2 separate regions of the Homo sapiens genome follow, and region 1 is linked to region 2. Evidence: fine-mapped expression QTL. A gene starts in region 2. The other region holds a variant in brackets. All regions are shown on one strand. Distances are from middle to middle. Region 1 overlaps TALDO1 (transaldolase 1). Region 2 holds the start of PIDD1 (p53-induced death domain protein 1).

Evidence for each region. PIP is the estimated chance that this variant, and not a neighbour inherited with it, causes the effect.
Region 1: its variant is the best candidate, but not a certain one, in a credible set for the expression of PIDD1 in fibroblasts (GTEx, PIP 0.66).

Annotation. Positions count from the first base shown.
Region 1 is chr11:763,938-766,834 of GRCh38, forward strand. It overlaps TALDO1 (transaldolase 1), which reads left to right. Exons shown (of 8, transcript NM_006755.2): 6 at 1-7; 7 at 351-496; 8 at 876-1,075. The coding sequence ends at 908. Among named protein-coding and RNA genes, the nearest start is that of GATD1, 12 kb to the right of the region's middle. RefSeq lists a silencer at 1,402-1,815. The variant AC/A (reference allele first, on the strand shown) is at 1,200.
Region 2 is chr11:803,958-806,854 of GRCh38, forward strand. It overlaps PIDD1 (p53-induced death domain protein 1), which reads right to left and starts at 1,274. Exons shown (of 16, transcript NM_145886.4): 1 at 1,222-1,274; 2 at 137-506. The coding sequence starts at 431. RefSeq lists enhancers at 204-901, 253-322, 403-542 and a silencer at 903-1,622.

The sequences.
Region 1 (2,897 bases), 40 kb before region 2:
AAGGCGGGTGAGGCCCCACTGCCCAGCTGTGGCTCCTGCTCGGGCAAGGCCAGCACTGCCGTGCCACGCTGCCCTGTGGGTGATCCCTCCCACCTGTGGGGCGAGCTCATCTTGGGAGACATGAGGGTGAAGTAGACCTCAACGGAGGGCTTGGCTTTCCTAACACATCTCACTCAAGTCATCAGCCAAGGCTCTGTGGGCTGAACCCCACTTCCAGCGTGAGCCTTGCTGGGGCCAAGGCCTGGCCCTGGTGGGAGATGCTTGGGTGCAGCAGTTCAGGCCCTGAGCCCAAGGGGCCAAGGTGGGCAGGGACATGGAGCAGGCATGGAAGGCTGGTTCTTGTCCCCCAGCCCAAGCCAGTGACCTGGAAAAAATCCACCTGGATGAGAAGTCTTTCCGTTGGTTGCACAACGAGGACCAGATGGCTGTGGAGAAGCTCTCTGACGGGATCCGCAAGTTTGCCGCTGATGCAGTGAAGCTGGAGCGGATGCTGACAGTGAGTGTTGTGTGTGGGTACCTACATATGCCAAGCCCTATGAGAGCCCGGGCCTGGGCGTCGGGGTTCAAGCTGGGCAGAGTTAAAACTTTGGTGAGACCCCAGGTCTCATTCACGTGCTGTCCAGCAAGTGGGGCCTGTTGAGGCCATCCCAGGGTGGAGGGTGCATGGCACCCAGGGGTGCCCCCAGGATGCTTGGTGGGTCCTGGCTCCTCTCTGGCCTGTGTGGTGACTGTGGTATTGGCCACCCTGTGGCCGTGGCCCCCACACAGAGTGCAGACCCCACAAGGGCCTCCCTCCTTCCACATGGTGCCTTGTGAGGCTTCAAGGTGCAGAAGGTAGGGTGGGGAGACACAGCTCGTGCTCTGTTTGTTTCTAGGAACGAATGTTCAATGCAGAGAATGGAAAGTAGCGCATCCCTGAGGCTGGACTCCAGATCTGCACCGCCGGCCAGCTGGGATCTGACTGCACGTGGCTTCTGATGAATCTTGCGTTTTTTACAAATTGGAGCAGGGACAGATCATAGATTTCTGATTTTATGTAAAATTTTGCCTAATACATTAAAGCAGTCACTTTTCCTGTGCTGTTTCATTCACTGTCTCCGTCCCCTTTGTCCCCTAAGCATCACCTGCCCCAGCTGTGATGGGCTGTAACCTAGGTTAGGACTCAGAGATGGGGTCGGGGTCAGGGTACCCCAGACACA[AC/A]CCACCGCCTGGGCCACCACCTGGGAACCCAGGTCAGGGTTGTTGCTGGGAGGCCATTGGTGGAGTTAGGCAAAGGGCAGGCTTCTGATGCCAGGGGCTCCCAAGGTGCTGTCCCAGGTGGGTCACAGATGAACAGTCTCAAGCCTCCAAGCGTGGGCAGATGTGGATGCCTCTCAGAGGAGCAGTCCCAGCCGGACCCTCCCTCCTGCTCTTGAGGGCCTGGGCCTCCTGTTCCCTGTCAAGGCTGCCCTGCCCATGCCCCCCGCCCCCCTCCTGTCCTGTTGTGGCTGAGACCTTACATGGGATGCCAGGTTCCTGCATGGGGTCATGGTGCCACCTTGTGGGGGCAGCACGACATGCACCAGCCACTGGCCTTGAAGTCGCCACCCCCATTTTTTTTGTTGTTTGAGACGGAATCTCACTCTGTCGCCCAGGCTGGAGTGCGCCCCGGGCAGTGGTGCGATCTCGGCTCCCTGCAACCTCCGCCTCCCAGTTTCAAGCGATTCTCTTTACCTCAGCCCCCACAAGTAGCTGGGATTACAGGCGCCTGCCATCATGCCCGGCTAATTTTTTGTATTTTAGTAGAGACAGGGTTTCACCATTTCAGCCAAGCTGGTCTTGAACTCCTGACCTTGTGATCCACCCACCCCGGCCTCCCAAAGTGTTGGGATTACAGGTGTGAGCCACCATGCCCGGCCTCTCCCTGTTTTTCAATACACGGCCTCACTCTGTTGCCCAGGCTGGAGTGCAGTGATGCAATCTTGGCTCACTGTAGCCTCCACCTCCCAGGCTCAAGTGATCCTCCCGCCTGTAGTTGAGACTACAGGCGCGCACCACCATGCATGGCTAATTTTCTATTTTTTGTAGAGATGGGGGGTCTCACCACACTGCCTAGGCTGGTCTCGAACTCCTAGGCTCATGCGATCCTCCTTCTGCGGCCTCCTAAAGTGCAGGGATTACAGGCCTGAGCCACTGCACCCGGCCACCTTTACGGATCCTACAGCACTGGGCTGTAGGATGGAGCTGCAGCTTCTCACCCTGAACCTAAAACAAGCTACCCTACCTTACACCAGCCATCTGGCCACTGCCCCTCAACTCCAGTCTGGGTTGGGCATGCCCGCCCATCCAGGGTGCAAGAGGGGACAACTCGGGCAGAGCAGCAGGCCAGGGAGGCAGCTGGGCTGCCAGTGCCCTTGATCAAGACCAGTGCAGGGCTCCTCCTGGGGTGGAGAGCTGAGTGGGCAGAGCCCTCCCCACACCAACCCCCACTGCTGAGGAGTCCCTCCCACCCTTCAAGGCTTCCCACAGGAGGCCAGGCCTCTGCCTCCGAGCCGGTCAACAAGCTAAGTCCTAAGAGGACATCAAAGGTCTTGTGGCTCCCAATTATTAACAGCACCACTATCTCCAAGGAGGCCCAGCAGAATGGGGCTCTGGGGATGTGACTAAGTTTGTGAGTGTCGTTTGCAAACATCAAGTTCACCCACTTGCCCCTATGATTCAGTCATCTTAGAACTGTGAAACCATCACCCCAAAATGAAATCTCATACCTATTTGTTCCCAGCCTCAAACAATCTATTTTCTGTCTGACTTACATTTTCTGGATATTTCACAAAAATGGTATCACAGGGTAAAGGCCTTTTGAGACAGTCTTCTTTCACTCACTCAGCATTCTGTCCAGGTCCGCCCACATCATAGAA
Region 2 (2,897 bases):
AGAACAGTTCACACCTGGGGAGCCGGGAGGGGCGGCCTGGAGCTGGGGCTGGGACTGGGGTTTGCCTTTGAGAACATGCAGCAGAGGCAGGGCAGAGCGAGAGATGGAGACAGGGCCCAGAACAGGTGGAACTCACCTTTGAGGACCAGGGAGCGGAGGCAGGACAGGCTCTGAGGCAGCTGGGCCAGGGTGGCCTCCAGCAGCTGAGGGTCCTCGTGAGTGCTCAGACGCAAGAATTCCACCTGCAGCAGCTGCAGAGGCTGCTGGACACACAGGTGCAGCAGCTGCTGGCAGCCCCCGGGGTACAGGTCCAAGCTCAGCCGGTTGCCGCCCAGGAAAGGCAGCGCCCTGGACCCTGCGTCCGAATCCTCTGAAGCATCTCCTGCGGCAGCAGCTGCCTCCAGCTCTGGCCCCTCCACCGTTGCAGCCATCGCCCACCGACGGTCCTTGGAGGCCAGACATGTCCCAGCACGCAGGCAGGCCTGTCCAGGCAGCGCCCGGGGAAGCTGCAGAGGCAGGAGGAGGAGTGAGCGGGAGCCGGGGTGGGCCCTTCTCTTTGGGGAAACAGGGACTCTGGATGGAGTGGGGAGCTCTAGAGCCAGGCCATCTGGGCCTGGGCTGCAGAGTGGGGGAGACCTTGTGGTCACCCTGAACCCCGGAGGCCTGGGTCACCACTGGAAAGAGGGTTGGGGAATGGGACCGCCATGGCTCGCAGGAGCACCGGGCAGGGAGACCTCGCTATGAGCAGCAAAGCCGGGGTAGTGAGGCTTCAGTCCTGGTCCTGGAAATCTGGCCAATGGAGCCGTGGAGCTGCGAGGTCATAGGGGCTGTTCCCCAGTCCTGGAGATGAGTCCCCCTTCTATTTACATCCGTTTTACCAGGAAGGCCGTGACCCTCCCCTACCGCGGGGGTGACTGCGCCCCGAAAGTCAGGGAAGGCCGTGTAAGGGTGAGGGCCTGGGGCGTGAGCCATTGGGCAGCTTCGGGGTCCTGGGGCCGGGACCCCAATTCGTGAGCCCCGGAGGAAACCTCTCCCGGCCTTTCCAGTTCGGTCCACTGGGGAGGGTGGTGCACCGCGCACCGCTCAGACGGCGTGGGGGGCGGGCCCCAGCCCCGAGGCAGGCTCGGGATCCCCCGGGCGTCGGGGATGGGAACGGCCCCCAGCCTCCCAAAAGCAAACGTGTCCCCGCCGCCCCCTCCGCCCGCCCAGGCCGGCGCGTACCTGCGCTGCAGGCGGCGCGCAAAGGGTGGCTGCTCAGCGGGCGCTCGGCGCCTGGGATCCCGCCGGCGCGTTTCTGGGTGGGCGGGGACTGCAGACCCCGCCCCTTGGGCCCCGCCCCCTCGGGACGCGCCCCCTCCGCCGGGCTGGGGTCCACGGGGGAGGTCTCCCGGCTCCTCCCCGACCCGCCTTCCCTCCGCCTGTCGCAGCCCCGGAGACGCGGACGCGACCCGTCCATCTGCCGAGCCGCCCGCGCAGCAGCGCTCGGCTTCCTGTTAGTCCGCGGGGTCGGAGCCGTACAGCCTCCCCCGCCCGGAAGGCCACGAAACCCGCCCTTTCCGAGGTTCTCGGGGCCCCGGGCCGCTCCGAGGCAGACCCGGCCCCAGGTGCGTTCCCAGGCCGGGGTGACGGGGGTACTCTTGCCGCTGCCCCGCACCCACCCCTGCTACAAGCCGGAACAATTGCAGTGTCCTTTCCAAACCAGCCCAAACGGCCTCCTCCGGGAAGCCTGCCAGGACCTCCTCTCTGGGCCTGCAAAGACCCTTCCTTTCGAGCCATCACTCTGGGCCAGAAGCAGTGAGCCTCCTGGCACTGTCTCCTTCAATCGCGCAGGGGAGAAGGAGGCGTTAAGAGATAAAATATTGAGCGGGCGCGGTGGCTGACGCCTGTAATCCCAGCACTTTGGGAGGCCGAGGCGGGTGGATCACGAGGTCAGGAGTTTGAGACCAGCCTGGCCAACATGGTGAAACCCCGTCTCTACTAAAAATACAAAAATTAGCCGGGCGTGGTGATGCGCGCCTGTAGTCCCAGCTACTCAGGAGGCTGAGGCAGAAGAATGGCGTGAACCCGGGAGGCGGAGGTTGTAGTGAGCCGAGATGGTGCCACTGCACTCCAGCCTGGGAGACAGAGCAAGACTCCGTCTGAAAAAAAAAAAAAAAAAAAATCAGATATTGCCCGAGGCCCTGTAGCTGGTGAGGGTCAAAGCCAAGAACCTGAAATCTGCCCTGTCCGCCTTCCCCACCAACATGATACCCCCGAGCGGGCCTGTGCTTTATTCACCAGCTTCCTCGCCCAGGAGAACAGGTACTTAGGGAGGGAACAGACACCACCAGCTATGCCTGCTTCTTTCCTGAGGTCATATCAGCGGCTCCTCCTTCCCCACCAACATGATACCCCCGAGCGGGCCTGTGCTTTATTCACCAGCTTCCTCGCCCAGGAGAGCAGGTGTTTAGGGAGGGAACAGACACCACCAGCTATGCCTGCTTCTTTCCTGAGGTCATATCGGCGGCTCCTTCTTCCTTCCATTTCCCAGCTACCACCATCCCTCCCTCTGGGACAGGCAGGTCTCTTCCAGGCCTCCCTGCTTCCATTCACCCCAGCCCCTTCCATGTAGGGCCTGGAGGGATCTTTTTTTTTTTTTTCTTTGAGATGGAGTCTGGCTGTGTCCCAGAGGCTGGAGTGCAGTGGCGTGATCTCGGCTCACTGCAAGCTCCACCTCCAGGGTTCACACCGTTCTCCTGCCTCAGCCTCCTGAGTAGCTGGGACTACAGGCGCCCACCACCACGCCCGGCTAATTTTTTTGTATTTTTAGTAGAGACGGGGTTTCACCGTGTTACCTAGGATGTTCTCGAACTCCTGACCTCGTGATCCACCCGCCTCGGCCTCCCAAAGTGCTGGGA